2 separate regions of the Homo sapiens genome follow, and region 2 is linked to region 1. A link means that fine-mapping ties the variant in region 1 to the expression of a gene that starts in the linked region. Tissue or cell type: whole blood. Region 1 holds a variant in brackets; the other region holds the start of a gene. All regions are shown on one strand. Distances are between the middles of the regions.

Region 1 (8,268 bases):
TTGCATTTCTCTAACGACCAGTGATGATGAGCTTTTTTTCACGTTTGTCAGCCGCATGTCTTCTTTTGAAAAATGTCTGTTCATATCCTTCACCCACTTTTTGACGGGGTTGTTTTATTCTTGTAAATGTGTTTAAGTTCTTTGTAGATTCTGGATATTAGCCCTCTGTCAGATGGATAGATTGAAAAAATTTTCTCCCATTCTGTAGGTTGCCTGTTCACTCTGATGATAGTTTCTTTTGCTGTGCAGAAGCTCTTTAGTTTAATTAGACCCCATTTGTCAATTTTGGCTTTTGTTGCCATTGCTTCTGGTGTTTTCATCATGAACTCTTTGCCCATGCCTCTGTCCTGAATGGTATTGCCTAGGTTTTCTTCTAGGGTTTTTATGGTTTTAGGTCTTACATTTAAATCTTTAATCCATCTTGACTTAATTTTTGTATAAGGTGTTAAGAGGAAGGGGTCCAGTTTCAGTTTTCTGCATATGGCTAGCCAGTTTTCCCAACATCATTTATTAAATAGGGAGTCCTTTCCTCATTTCTTGTTTTTGTCAGGTTTGTCAAAGATCAGATGGTTGTAGATGTTTGGTGTTATTTCTGAGGCCTCTGTTCTGTTCCATTGGTCTATATATCTGTTTTGGTACCAGTACCATGCTGTTTTGGTTACTGTAGCCTTGTAGTATAGTTTGAAGTCAGGTAGCATGATACCTCCAGCTTTGTTCCTTTTGCTTAGGATTATCTGGGCTATGCGGGCTCTTTTTTGGTTCCATATGAAATTTAAAGTAGTTTTTTCTAACTCTGTTAAGAAAGTCAGTGGTAGCTTGATGGGAATAGCACTATTACTTTGGGCAGTATGGCCATTTTCACGATATTGATTCTTCCTATCCATGAGCATGGCATGTTTTTCCATTTGTTTGTGTCCTCTCTTATTTCCTTGAGCAGTGGTTTGTAGTTCTCCTTGAAGAGGTCCTTCACATCCCTTGTAAGTTGTATTCCTAGGTATTTTATTCTCTTAGTAGCAATTGTGAATGGGAGTTCACTCATGATTTGGCTGTTTGTGTATTATTGGTGTATAGGAATGCTTGTGATTTTTGCACATTAATTTTGTATCCTGAGACTTTGCTGACGTTGCTTATCAGCTTAAGGAGTTTTTGGGCTGAGACGATGGAGTTTTCTAAACATACAATCATGTCATCTTTAAACAGAGATAATCTGACTTCCTCTCTTCCTATTTGAATACCCTCATTGCTTTCTCTTGCCTGACTGCCCTGGCCAGAACTTCCAATATTATGTTGAATAGGAGTGGTGAGAGAGGGCATCCTTGTCTTGTGCTAATTTTCAAAGGGAATGCTTCCAGTTTTTGCCCATTCAGTATGATACTGGCTGTGAGTTTGTCATAAATAGCTCATTATTTTGAGATATGTTCCATCAATACCTAGTTTATTGAGTGTTTTTAGCATGAAGGGGTGTTGAATTTTATCGAAGGCCTTTTCTGCATCTATTGAGATAATCATGTGGTTTTTGTCATTGGTTCTGTTTACGTGATGGATTACATTTACTGATTTGCGTATGTCGAACCAGCCTTGCATCCCAGGGATGAAGCCAACTTGATCATGGTGGATAAGCTTTTTAATGTGCTGCTGGATTCAGTTTGCTGGTATTTTATTGAGGATTTTTGCATTGATGTTCATCAGGGGTATTGCCCTGAAATTGTGTTTTTTTATTGTGTCTCTGCCAGGTTTTGGTATCAGGATGATGCTGGCTTCATAAAATGAGTTAGGGAGGAGTCCCTCTTTTTCTATTGTTTGGAATAGTTTTAGAAGGAATGGTACCAGCTCCTCTTTGTAACTCTGGTAGAATGTGGCTGTGAATCCATCTGGTCCTGGGCTTTTTTTTGGTTGGTAGGCTATTAATTATTGCCTCAATTTCAGAACTTGTTATCGGTCTATTCAGGGATTCAACTTCTTCCTGGTTTAATCTTGGGAGGGTGTATGTGTCCAGGAATTTATCCATTTCTTCTAGATTTTCTAGTTTATTTGCATACAGGTGTTTATAGTATTCTCTGTTGGTAGTTTGTATTTCTCTGGGATCAGTGGTGATAATCCCCTTTATCATTTTTTATTGTGTCTGTTTGATTCTTCTCTCTTTTCTTCTTTATTAGTCTGGCTAGCAGTCTATCAATTTTGTTAATCTTTTCAAAAAACCAGCTCCTGGATTCATTGATTTTTGAAGGGTTTTTCGTGTCTCTATCTCCTTCAGTTCTGCTCTCATCTTAGTTATTTCTTGTCTTCTGCTAGCTTTTGAATTTGTTTACTCTTGCTTCTCCAGTTTTTTTGAGATGGAGTTTTGCTCTTGTTGCCCAGGCTGGAGTGCAATGGCATGATCTCGGCTCACTGCAACCTCCACCTCCCTGGGTTCAAGTGATTCTCCTGCTCCAGCCTCTCCAGTAGCTGGGATTACATAGGTGCCTGCCACCACACCTAGCAAATTTTTTGTATTTTTAGTAGAGACAGGGTTTCATCATGTTGGCCAGGCTGGTCTCAAACTCCTGACCTCAGGTGATCCACCTGCCTTGGCCTCCCAAAGTGGTGGGATTACAGGCATGAGCCATGGTGCCCAACCTTCTAGTTCTTTTAATTGTGATGTTAGGATGTCAATTTTAGATCTTTCCCACTTTTTCCTGTGTGCATTTAGTGCTATAAAAACATTGCTTTAGCTGTGTTCCAGAGATTGTGGTATGTTGTGTCCTTGTTCTCATTGATTTCAAGTAATTTATTTATTTTTGCCTTAATTTCATTATTTATTTACCCAGCAGTCATTCAGGAACAGGTTGTTCAGTTTCCATGTAGTTGTGCAGTTTTGAATGACTTTCTTAATCCAGAGTTCTAATTTGATTGCACTGTGGTCTGAGAGACAGTTTGTTGTGATTTCTGTTCTTTTGCATTTGTTGAGGAGTATTTTACTTCCGATTATGTGGTCAATTTTAGAATAAGTGTGACGTGGTGCTGAGAAGAATGTATATTTTGTTGATTTGGGATGGAGCATTCTGTAGATGTGTGTTAGTTCCACTTGGTCCAGAGCTGAGTTTAAGTCCTGAATATCCTTGTTAATTTTCTGTCTTGTTGATCTAATATTGACAGTGGGGTGCTAAAGTCTCCCAATATTATTGTGTGGGAGTCTAAGTCTCTTTGTAGATCTCTAAGAACTTGTTTTACGAATCTGGGTGCTTCTGTATTGGGTATATATATATTTAGGATAGTTAGCTTTTCTTGTTGCATTGATCCCTTTACCACTATGTAATGCCCTTCTTTGTCTTTTTTGATTTCAAGTCCGTTTTATCAGAGACTAGGATTGCAACCCCTG[CTT/C]TTTTTTTTTTTTTTTTTTTTGCTTTCCATTTGCTTGGTAAATCTTCCTCCATCCCTTTATTTTGAGCCTATGTGTGTCTCTGCACATGAGATGGGTCTCCTGAATACAGCAAACTGATGGGTCTTGACTCTTTATCCAATGTGCCAGTCTGTGTCTTTTAATTGGGGCATTTAGCCTGTTTACATTTAAGGTTAATATTGTTATGTGTGAATGTGATCCTGTCATTATGATGGTAGCTGGTTATTTTGCCTGTTAGTTGATGCAGTTTCTTCACAGTGCTGATGGTTTTTACATTTTGGTATGTTTTTGCAGTGGCTGGTACTGGTTTTTCCTTTCCATATTTAGTGCTTCCTTCAGGAGCTCTTGTAAAGCAGGTGTGGTGGTGACAACATCCTTCAGCATTTGCTTGTCTGTAAAGGATTTTATTTCTCCTTTGCTTATGAAGCTTAGTTTGGCTGGATATGAAATTCTGGGTTGAAAATTCTTTTCCTTAAGAATGTTAAATGTGTGCCCCCACTCTTTTCTGGGTTGTAGCGTTTCTGCAGAGAGATCCGCCGTTAGTCTGATGGGTTTCCCTTTGTGGGTAATGTGACCTTTCTCTCTGGCTGCCCTTAACATTTTTTCCTTCATTTCAACCTTGGTGAATCTGATGATTATGTGTCTTGGGGTTGCTCTTCTCGAGGAGTATCTTTGTGGTGTTCTCTGTATTTCCTGAATTTGAATGTTGGCTTGTCTTGCTAGGTTGTGGAAGTTCTCCTGGATAATATCCTGAAGAGTGTTTTCTAACTTGGTTCCATTCTCCCTGTCACTTTCAGGTACACCAATCAAATATAGGTTTGGTCTTTTCACATAGTCCCATATTTCTTAGAGGCTTTATTCACTCATTTTCATTCTTTTTTCTCTAATCTTGTCTTCACACTTTATTTCATTAAGTTAATCTTCAATCTCTGGTATCCTTTCTTCCACTTGATCGATTTGACTATTGATACTTGTGTATGCTTCACGAAGTTCTCGTGCTGTGTTTTTCATCTCCATCAGGTTATTTATGTTCTTCTCTAAACTGGTTATTCCAGTTAGCAGTTCCTATAACCTTTTATCCAGATTCTTAGCTTCCTCGCATTGGGTTAGAACATGCTCCTTTAGCTTGGAGGAGTTTGTTATTACTCACCTTCTGAAGCCTCTTTCTGTAAATTCTTCAAACTCATTCTCCGTCCAATTTTGTTCCCTTGCTGGCAATGAGTTGTGATCCTTTGGAGGAGGAGAGGCATTCTGGTTTTTGGAATTTTCAGCCTTTCTGTGCTGCTTTTTCCTCATCTTTGTGGATTTATCTACCTTTGGTCTTTGATGCTGGTGACCTTTGGGTGGGGTTTTTGTGTAGTCATCCTTTTTGTTGATGTTGATGCTATAGCTTTCTGTTTGTTAGTTTTCCTTCAGGCCCCTCTTCTGCAGGTCTGCTGCAGTTTGCTGAAGGTACACTCCGGACTCTCTTTGCCTGGGTATCACCAGTGGAGGCTGCAGAATAGCAAAGACTGCTGCCTGCTCCTTCCTCTGGAAGCTTCATCCCAGAAGGGCACCCACCAGATGCCAGCTGGAACTCTCCTGTATGAGGTGTCTGTCGATTCCTGCTGGGAGGTGTCTCCCCGTCAGGAACCACCAGAGTCAGGGACTCACTTGAGGAGGCAGTCTGTCCCTTAGCAGAGCTCAAGCGTTGTGCTGGGAGACCTGCTGCTCTCTTGAGAGCTGGCAGGCAGGAACATTTAAGTCTGCTGAAACTGCGCCCACAGCCACCCCTTCCCCCAGGTGCTCTGTCCCAGGGAGATGGGAGTTTGATCTGTAAGCCCCTGACTGGGGGCTGCTACCTTTCTTTCAGAGATGCCCTGCCCAGAGAGGAGGAATCTAGAGAGGCAGTCTGGCTACAGCAGTTTTATGGCGCTGCGGCAGGCTCAGCCCAGTATGATCTTCCTGATGGCTTTCTTTACACTCTAAGGGGAAAACCACCTACTCAAGCCTCAGTAATGGCGGATGCCCCTCCCCCCCACCAAGCTCGAGCATCCCTGGTCAACTTCAGACTGCTGTGCTGCCAGTGAGAATTTCAAGCCAGTGGATCTCAGTGTGTTGGGCTCCGTGGTGATGGGATCCACTGAGCAAGACCACTTGGCTCCCTGGCTTCAGCCCCCTTTCCAGGGGAGTGAACAGTTGGGACTCGCTGAGGTTCAGACGCCACTGGGGTGCGAAAAAAATTCTCCTGCAGCTAGCTCAGTGTCTGCCCAAATGGCCGCCCAGTTTTGTCCTTGAAACTTAGGGCCCTGGTGGTGTAGGCACTCGATGGAATCTCCTGGTCTGCGGGCTGCAAAGACAGTGGCAAAAGCCTAGTATCTGGGCTGGATAGGTCTGTCCCTCACTCACGGCTTCCCTTGGCTAGGGGAGGGAGTTCCCCGACCCCTTGTGCTTCCTGGGTAATGCAATGCCGCACGCTACTTCTGCTTGCCCTCCATAGGCTGTACCCACTGTCTAACCAGTCCCAGTGAGATAAGCTGGGTACCGCAGTTGGAAATGCAGAAATCACCTGCCTTCTGTGTTGGTCTCACTGGGAGCTGCAGACTGGAGCTGTTCCTATTCAGGCACCTTGTCTGGGAATCAATTTTTCTTTTTAAATCTTCTAATTTTCTGTGTGACCTCTAAATGGTCTCAGAACCTATTCCACTGCAGGGGTATGTTTACTGTGGTGACGTATGCATAACGTCAGATTTATCATTAGTGATGTTAAGTGTCTTCATAACTTTGTGCAGCCATTACCACTATCTAGTCCCAGGACATTTTTATCATCCCAGAGGAAACTCCATCCCCATTAAGCAGTTACTCATTCCTCCTCCCACCCTCTGGCAATCTCTAGTCTGTCTTCTGTCTCTATGGATTTGCCTACTCTGGATATTTCATATAAACAGAACCCTACAGTATGTTGCCTTTTGTACCTGGCTTCTTTCACTTAGCACAATGATTTCATCATTCATCCATGTTGTAGCACTTATCAGTCCTTTGTTCCTTTTTAAGGCCAAATAGTATTCCATCATATATATATACAGGTTGAGTATCCTGTATCTGAAATTGTTTTGGATTTCAGCTTTTTTTTCAGATTTTAGAATACTTGCATTATATTTACCAGGATGAGCATCCCAAAATCCAAAATGCTCCAATGAGCATCTCTTTTGAGCATCAAGTTGGCACTCAAAAAGTTTCAGATTTTGGAGCATTTGAGATTTCCAGATTTGGAATGCTCAACTCTACCACATTTTGTTGATCCATTCATTTGATGTTGGGCATTTGTATTATTTCCACCATTTGGATATCACGAAAAGGACTGCTATGAACATTTGCGTATAAGTTTTTGTTTGAACACCTGTATTTAATTCTTTTGGGTAACTACCCAGGAGCCCGCCAAACTATTTTTTCACAGCAGCTGAACCATTTTATATTCCCACCAGCAATGGGTTCCAGTTTCTTCACATCCTTGCTAAACGCTTATTTTCCATTAAATATATATATCATATATATATCATATATATCATATATATGATATCGATATCATATATATCATATATATGATATATCATATATATATCATATATCATATCATATATCATATCATATATATATCATATATATCATATATATATAAACATCTGTGAGACAGTGTGCATGCGTGCGCACGCCATCTTAATATGGAGTGACATATCTCATTGTGGATTTGTTTTGCATTTCCCTAGTAACACATAGCATCTTTTCATGTCCTCATTGGCCATTTGTATATGATCTTTGGAAAAATGTCTATTTCAAGTCCTTGGTCCATTTTTTAATTGGGTTGTCTTTCTGTTGAGTTTTATAAGAGTTCTTTGTATATTTTGTGTACTACATCCATATTAGATAGAATTTGTGAATACTTTTTTCCCATTCTGTAGTTTTTCTTTTCACTTTGATGTGCTGTGGTTTTTCACAGTACTTTTACATATATTTTCCTTTGATCTTTTTGGTGGAAATTATTCCAGGACCAATAGGATTATAAGAACCATGAGCCCATTTCTGTAAAAGGTCCAGGACATAGTGAAAGAACAGGTTTTATTAATAAGAACTTAATTCTCAGATAAGGTTCATAATAAATGAAAAGGATGGGCTTAATGAATGGAAGAAGCTATATCCTAATTTTTGCTATAGTCCTAGTTACCTTTTTTGAAGCTAACGTTCATTGAGCACTTTTCATGTGCCAGTGAGTTGTAAATGTCTTACATATATTAGCACATTTATTCCTCATGACATTTATTCCTCATGACAACAGTGGAGGGTGTGAATAGTTACTTTCATTTTACAGCTGAAAAAACTGAGGTACAGAGGCTCAAAAATTTGCTTAAGGTCACATAACTAAGAAATGCCGAAGCCAGGAATAAACTGAGACATTCTGGCTCTAAAGCAGTGCTGTCCCTTAGAAATGTAATGGAAGCCTTATATGTCATCGAAGTTTTTCCAGCGGCCACATTAAGTGAAAAGTAACAGATAAAATTAATTTTACTTAATCCAGTATATCTAAAATATTACCAGACATGTGATTAACCTAAAAAATTAGTGAGATGTTTTACATCCTAAATCTTAGAAATTTGGTATGTATTTAACACTGAAAACACATCTCAGTTCAGGCTAGTTTTGCTGCAGATGCTACCTGTGGCTACAGTATCATACACCCATGTTCATAACCAGGATTTTGGTCATATCTGAAACCCAGATCGTATTACCTGAAACACTAAATCATGTAGTTAATATGGCCTGCTCTCTCTGTGATGGCCAAGTTATTTAGGCAGATTTTTAAGTTTTTTTCCATTATTTTTTATAAATAGTACTCTCAGAAATGAAAAAAAAAA
Region 2 (8,000 bases), 52 kb after region 1:
AAAACTAAAATTACCACTTACTCTGTACCACCTATGTGCTGGACGCTGTGCTGGGCACTAAACATATGTGACTTCATTTAATTCTTCTAGCAACTCTCCAAGGTAGATTCCATGGTTCCATTAACTTCATTTTACTGATGATGAAACTGAGGCTCATCAAGGTTAAGAAATGTGTTCAACCTCCCACTGTAGGAATGTGGCAGGGCTGGGATGTAAATGGGTCGGCAGCACTGAGGTCACCAGCAGGGTGGCTCTCATCAGCGAGCATGATCTTTGGTCCACAGCGTACAGCCCTGACTGGAGGCAGGACAGGGGCAGACTGGAGCTGGATGCTACTACCATGTTCCCGCCCACAATACCTGCCAGAGAACTACATCACAAGTGTCCTTTTTCCTTATATCGTGGAAATGCAACTGTGATGCCCATTAGAACTGACAGGGAAACTCTGGTCTTCCCTTTTTAATTTAACTTGGCAGTGATCACCTCTGGAAAAAATATAACCAGCTACCTTGGACACTGGCTATCCTCATTTACTATACTGTGTCTGCTCAAACTTTGGTTTGGAACAACAGAGATATTCTGAGACATAAAGAAGGAATGAGACCAAGAATAAAGCAAAGGCACACCAGTAGCTCAAAATCCCACGGTCAGAAAGACACGGTCAGAAAGACACTGGTATATCTCACTTACAAAGATAACAACAGCAATCATTTATGGGGTTACTATGGCATGCCAGCATGGAGACACTTTACATATGTTACTTGTTCTTCCTAACAACTCAACTAAATAGCTATTTTTATTTTTATTTTACATACCTCCAAACACAACCTCAGAGAGATTGAGTAACTTGCCAAAAGTAACAGTAGCAGATTCAGGAGTGGAATTCCATCCATTTTCTACTGCCCGACACTTTTAAGGGTATGCTCGGCCAGAGAAACAAATCCAAGCACCCTATGCACACAGCCTCAGCTCCCTATCACTCCTTTACCTTAAAGAAACTGGGTATTACCTAATAAAACACTCCTAGACATTCTCAAGAATAGTGTGTGTAATTGTGTAGTGGCCCAATGTTAACACCACTGACTACTGAGAAAATTTTAAGGTTATAAACAAAGTTCTTATCTCCATAATTTGGTGGAGGAAGAGAATGTCCTAGTGAAAAGAACCAAGACTTTGGGAGGCCAAGACAGGAAGATTGGTTGAGCCCAGGAGTTCAAGACCACCCTGGGCAACACAGCAAGACTCTGTCTCTACAAAAATTAAAAAATTAGCCATGCGTGGTGATGCATGCCTGTAGTCCTAGCTACTCAGAAGGCTGAGGTGGGAGGATCGCTTGAGCCCAGGAGGCTGAGGCTGCAGTGAGCCGTGTTCATGCCACTGCACCCCAGTCTGGGCAACAAAGCGAGACCCTGTCTCAAAAAAAAAAAAAAAAAAAAAAAGAACCAAGTCTATTGAAAGGAAAAATAGGTTATAAACAAAAAGAGGAACAGCACAAAACATCTCCACAGTGAAGACATATAAAACCACCAGGTTATGTTTTGAGATTATCTTGTTTGAGGAAAGAAAGGCCTGATTTGGTTGGAGAGGGCTGCTCCCAGCCGGGCCACTCAACTGCATAACCTCAGAACTACATCTTTTATTTCTTTGTTCCGTTATGCCAATCGCAAAAGAAACAAACAAAACACAAACCGAGCAAGCAACAGTGCTGTTGTCTTCACCTTACCTCAAAAGTGTACTACTTACAGGACAAGAGAATAAGCCCCTGAAGAAGTACAAGCTGCAGGAGCTCAAAGCTGCATTTGTGTTCCTATCGCAGCAGGATTCACACTGTACTGGAACTGTTGCCTCATTATCTGTCTCTGGAACAAACTGTGAACCAGTCAAGGGTAGTCACTCTTATTTATCTTCACATTCCCAACAGCCAGTAGTGCCAGGCAAGGAGCAGAGGCTTCTAAACAACAATGGAGGCAGATTTCTTAATCCCTAAAATGTTCAGCTTCCCACATATGAGAGGTAAGCAGAAATAACGCATGTGTATGCACACAGACTAGTTTTACAATGCATCGTGCAGCACTGCAAACTAAAAAGGAGTCCATGAATAGATGTGTCTAAGGTCAGTTAACTGCTATTCAGCTCTTCCTGGGTCACTCAGTTCAATTACAAAAGCTTTGGTGTTCATTTAATTCATCCTGTGCAATCACATTACTGAAGCAACTCTCAAAATTACTCTTCATAAAACTAGAAGAAACACACAATAGATGGTTTATTAGGATCTTTTCCTTTTAGTGAAACATTTTAGGTCACTGATGACAGAAAAGCCCGGTGCTAGATAGCTGGGCTAACTTGAACCATATCCCTAGTACAGGCAAGTTGCCTGGGTTCCAGTCCTGGCTCTGTCACTTTATGGTGTATAATTCTAAGCAAATTACTTCTCTGCTCCTTAGTTATTTAAATAGAGAATGTACTTCAAGACTATTGGGAGGATTGAGTGAGTTAATATATGTAAAGCATTTAGAAGAGTCCCTGGCACATAAAATCCATGAAACAGGCATTTGCTATTGTTTTTATGCTTTGCACATAAAATGAAGGGGATGGATTAGATTCCTTCCAGTTCCAAGTCTAGGAGTCACCTTGGGAGTAAAGCTACATTAGGCACAGGTCACATACAAGAGAGTAGTATATAAATATGCTCTGATGATCATTAAAGACCTTCTTAAAGTCAGCTTCCATTCTGCACAACAGCACCATCAAGAGCCCTCTTAAGGGTGATGGCCAAGTCTCAAAAGCAATGACAAATAAACTTCCTATATTAAAAGGAACATATTAAATAAGAATGATAATATCTCTAAACCTCCTCTGCCACATACAAGTTCAAAGTTATACACCATGTAGATATGACAATGTTAACTCTAAAGCACCTTGAAGATCACCTGCTCCCTCCCTGTCTCTCATTCTGTAGATGTTCTGTAGATTAGGAAACTGAGCCAGCTACAGGGTGGAGATGAAGAGACTCACCCACATCACATCCTAAGTGAGCGTGAGAGCCAGAATTAGAACCCAGGTCTCCTGACTTGCTCTACAGTCCTGTCTACTTCCTCACAGCTGGGCAAATCCTTTAAGCCACTCACAAACAGTGTATATTCCTTTATGTTAGAGCTGGAAATTAAGAATATGATCTGTTTGTGAGGACAACATCAAGAATCAGTTAGTATAATCACTGTAACCTGGCTTAGGCATCACCATGTAGGTTAGAAAAGCAGGATATTTCTGTGCACCTCAGTTTCCATAAGTGCAAGGCAAACAGAGATCCTTGTTCAAAGTGATCATTTAAAATCTCACATTGCTATCTTCAGATTCCACACAACAGATATGAACATGGACAAAATGCCTTCTACCAAGGGCTTTAGTCTGATTAAAATGCCAGGAGTCTACAGCCATATAAAAAAGGGAGGCCTTGAAAAAGTCGTCCAGAGGATGCAAACTTACCAAAAAACAAAACAAACAAACAAAAAACACACACACAGCTTGCTTCCAGTTCCTTACTTATCTACACTAGGAGGATCACAAAAAATGAACAAAAGACACCTATGCATACAGCCCTTCGGACTTATTCTGAACTGTCGATGTAGGTAAATCCATACAAGGATCATCCTGGGAAGTATTATTCACTTAGAAGAAAAAGGGAAGGAACCCCAAAAGAGAGGGGAAAGTGTGAAACGAAAATAGGTTAATCTTATTCTAAGTTTTCAAGAGTTGAGACACTAGGAAATAAAGGCACTTATTTAAATAAACCCGGGATGCTGAACCAGGAGTGTAGGTACGAAGCTGGAGAAATGTTAAACAAAGGAGAACAAAAGACCCCTGGGGAAAGATGTGCTGAATTATGAACTAATGTCATCCTGCACTCATTTGCTATATTTACACACCAGTTTTCATCTGCAGAGCTCAAAGGACTTGACTCTCATCTCGAGTGTGCTAATGAAGTTCCCTTGTGCGACAAATGGGGCAGGTACTGTATTTTTCTCTTCACTAATGGGAAAACGGTGCCAAAAGGAGGCCTGGTACCGCCGGAAAAGAGATCCAGGCCCTCTGCCTCTCATTCTGGCTGGCACAAGTCTCATCACATCATTAGGAGTAGCAGTAATAAGACTGACTCATTATCTGTACCGGACATTGTCTGCTGACAACTTTACAGGTATTTCTCATTGACTTCTCCTAACAACCCTATGAAGCAGGCACAATTATTATTCCTATTTTACAGACGACAAAACTAAGGCACAATAAGGTGGTTTTCCTGAGGCACTCAGCTACTACATGGAATCAAAGTTTAGATCTCGCAGACTCAGTTGCAGCTGAGCTTGCAGGGGGGTCACGACATCAAGACTCCGGCCGCGGGGCTCTCTCCCCTGTTCCACAGCTCTGCCCCGGCTCAGGACTCAGGGCCCGGCCCGCCCCCTCCTCAGCCCGAGAGAACCCGGTGGGAGGCGCCGCGAGGGGGCCGGGCGCACTCCCGCGGCTGCCCGGCCGGGGGCGCGGCCTCCACTCCGGGGCTGGAGGGGCCTCCTCGGCCTCACCCCTGCGGGCGAGGGGCACCGGAGCGGCGGGAGGTACCTGGGGGCTGTCCTGCAACGCCTCCTCTAGCAGGAGCTTGTCCACGGCGGGCATGGTGCGGCGCGGCTCAGCCGAGGGCTGGGTTGGAAGGACAGAGGGCAGGAGACGCGGCGGCCGAGAGCACTCCCCGGCTCTGGGCTCAGGCGACGCGGCGGCCACTCCGTGCCCGCGGCGGCCCCGCGCGCGTCCACGCCTGGCCAGTGGCCGCCGCCGCCTGCCCGCCGGCCCAGCCCCCGGCCGAGCCGGATCAACAGGAAGTGTGGCGCGCCCGGCAGGGAAACCGGAAGTGTGGTGAGCTCCGGTCCCGACACCGGAAATGTGGCGCCCGCGCTTCCGCCTGCGCTCGCCGGCTCGCGGGGAGCGGGGGGCTCTGGGTGCCAGTCCCGTTGCTGAGGGAACCCTTCGGGTGTTTGTTCTCTGTGCTGAAGGTCCGTCAAGTCAATGCATATGAAGTCCAAAAGAGGAACTCGAGGGTAGAAAGATAAGGTTTTATCTGCTTATGGCTACCCAGAAAGCCTTTTGAGTTGAAGGAGCGAACAGATTTTTTCTTTTAATGGAAGGAAAAACCCACACTTCCCACACCACTTTTTCTAGATAAATTTCGACGCCCCTGAAACAGCTCTGAGAGCAAAGAGGTCGCCTATGCTATGGGAACAAAGAAAAGAGGAGAAAAGCTGGATAACTGACTCGTCTGTGATAATCAGAAATAACCACTTTGGAAACCACAGCTATTTGATGTGGTCATAATTAGGTCTCGTCCTCCTGGTTTATGTTTTGTGATTTTGGAGAATTTCATAATCAAATGTTTAGAATTGGAAGGGCTAGATAATCTAGGTTCCAGTGTTGTCATTTAGAGATGAGAAAATGGGACCCAGAGAAATAAGTGGTCTGCCCAGGGTCAGTTAGTAAACGCCAGAGGAAGAAAAGAAGGAAGGGAGAGGGATGGAAGAAGACTGGCAAGTGGAACGTGACACCTTTTTACACGGAAGGCAAGGGTTTCTGAAGTTCCTTCTTTAGAAGTTAATAAGACTGGCCGGGCGTGGTGGTTCACGCCTGTAATCCCAGCACTTTGGGAGGCCGAGATGGGTGGATCACGAGGTCAGGAGTTCAAGACCAGTCTGGCCAAGATGCTGAAACCCCGTCTCTACTAAAAATACAAAAATTAGCCGGGCGTGGTGGCATGCGCCTGTAATCCCAGCTACTCGGGAGGCTGAGGCAGAAGAATCACTTGAACCCGGGAGGCAGAGGTTTCAGTGAGCCGAGAGGGCACCACTGCACTCCAGCCTGGGCAACAGAGCAAGACTCCGTCTCAAAAAAAAAAAAAAAAATCATGCAGTATGTGTGTCACCAAAATCAACAGAGGGGATATGGTAATATATAAATTCTGCATTCTGCAGAGACCTCTTAGGTATATCAAGACCCAATCTGCATTGCTGACACCTCTGACAGTCTAGTATAGTAGCATGCTGCCTGATCACTTGAAAACTCCAAGGCCATTATTCCCTTGGTCTGGCCAGCGCCAACCTGACCTGAACCATTTTATGGCCTCCATCTACCATATTTTCCTCCACAGTATTCTTTCTTCCCTATTCTTTCTTGCCTCCACCATACTCTTGTCTTCCCTATAGGTGGAATCATGCTCACACCATATTTCTTCCCTTTCCTCTATTTTATACCGCCTGCCATTCAGTTCATTTTACCTCATCCAGTGTCCCAGACTCTCTTCTCACTGAAATCTAATTCCTCACGGCCAGACTCATGCTCTTCCTTCATCCTGATTGCGAGAACAGTACAAGGATAGTATTATACCCAGGGAAATAAATGTGCACATTTTAATTTGAAAATATGCATTACAAGAAGTTAGTGCCCTCAGAACCCTTGAAAGGGCTCAGACAGCCCCTTGGGAATCACAGCATTTTTCATGTACCACCTCATCTTCTAATTAAAGTTACTTTTCTTCAAATACTAGTATTCAACATTCAAAAATTGTTTAAGCTATCCCATTACTTTTCTGCATTTTCTTGCTACATTATGGGCTAAACAGCCTTAGTGGGATTTCTTGGAACTTAAGAACTGTTTACAACATTGTTTCTATGGGAAAATCTATCCCAAATTCAAAACAACTAAGTTACAAAAGTAGATCTGGAAATACAACACATGCATAAATGGTTTTAATTTATCTCATTTGTTAATTCATCCAATCATTCATTCATGTATTAAATATAGACTGCTCAGTGTTAAGCACTGTCTCCCACTTGTTTGATTCTCATTTAAATTCTGAAGGCAAATATCCTCTCCTTTGATAATCTGTGAGAAACTACATAAGAGGAATTTTTATGTCAACATGAACATTTAAAAATGTTTCATTAAAGAGTATATATCTGTTCCTATTAAACTATTATGCAGGTGGATTTTAGAAATCCACCCCACTGTCTCTGAAATCCCTGGTCAGCTGTGAAGTTGGTGACAGGAAGTATAAAGATGGACAGTCTGGAGTTGTCGTGATGTCTGAAGAGAGAGAGGATGAATTATATGGAGGTGTAACCTGTGACCCATTGAAGGCCAGTGGGGAAAAGGACACAGTGAGACACAAAAAAAGGACCCAGGATGGCCAGGTCAGAGAAGGCCTGGGGCTTCAGGAGTAAGAGAGAAAGGCAGGAGTGAAGAAGGCAGCTGTTTTGGGAGATGCTTAGCAAACTGCATGATAGGGCACACGCATTGAGATTCTTTCCTCTGCCAGTCAAGCCCTTTCTCCTGCCTCTTGTCTGACAAACCCAACCACAATCATCAAATCCCAGTTTAATGTGACTTTTTTGATGAAGTCTTCATTTACTCCTGTCCCCCCAAGCAGAATACATTTTCCTTTCCTTGAGTGTGCTTCAGTAGCACTTGCCGAGATAATTCTAGAATAACACTTACCTCTCTTTGTTTCCACCTCCAACCTTCCAGCTAGAATGGGTAGGAACTTGGTCTTATTTATTTCTGTAATTAGAGTGCCTAGTACATTACCTAGCACAAAAGCAGTTGCTTGATAAATACTTACTAAACTATAATGTGTTATTATAACTTATACATGATTGATACTCCAGAGTTTAAAAAATGTTTTCATGAATCTCATTTCATTTGATAGCACAATGCTGCTTTTGCCGTTAATCATTCACTAGGTAGCACCGACTGTGTGTTAGACTCTTCTCTAGAAGCTGAGGATATAGGCTGAAGCAAAAAGTAGTCCTTGCCCTAATGGAGTTTATATTCTAATGGAGGAAATAATAAGAAACAAATACAAGTTGATAAGTGTATGATAACCTTTAGTAAAGGAATAGAGGATCATGGGAAGTGGAAAGGATTCTTTGAGGTGTGCAACTGTTGAGCTGAGAATTGAATCAGGG

The links. PIP is the estimated chance that this variant, and not a neighbour inherited with it, causes the effect.
Region 2: APPL2 starts here. The variant in region 1 is fine-mapped to the expression of APPL2 in whole blood (INTERVAL, PIP 0.95).

The regions. Positions count from the first base shown.
Region 1 is chr12:105,179,712-105,187,979 of GRCh38, forward strand. All of the region lies in intron 17 of APPL2 (adaptor protein, phosphotyrosine interacting with PH domain and leucine zipper 2), which reads right to left. Among named protein-coding and RNA genes, the nearest start is that of APPL2, 52 kb to the right of the region's middle. The variant CTT/C (reference allele first, on the strand shown) is at 3,359.
Region 2 is chr12:105,231,348-105,239,347 of GRCh38, forward strand. It overlaps APPL2 (adaptor protein, phosphotyrosine interacting with PH domain and leucine zipper 2), which reads right to left and starts at 4,827. Exons shown (of 21, transcript NM_018171.5): 1 at 4,612-4,827. The coding sequence starts at 4,665. RefSeq lists silencers at 4,406-4,655, 4,706-4,845 and an enhancer at 4,710-5,210.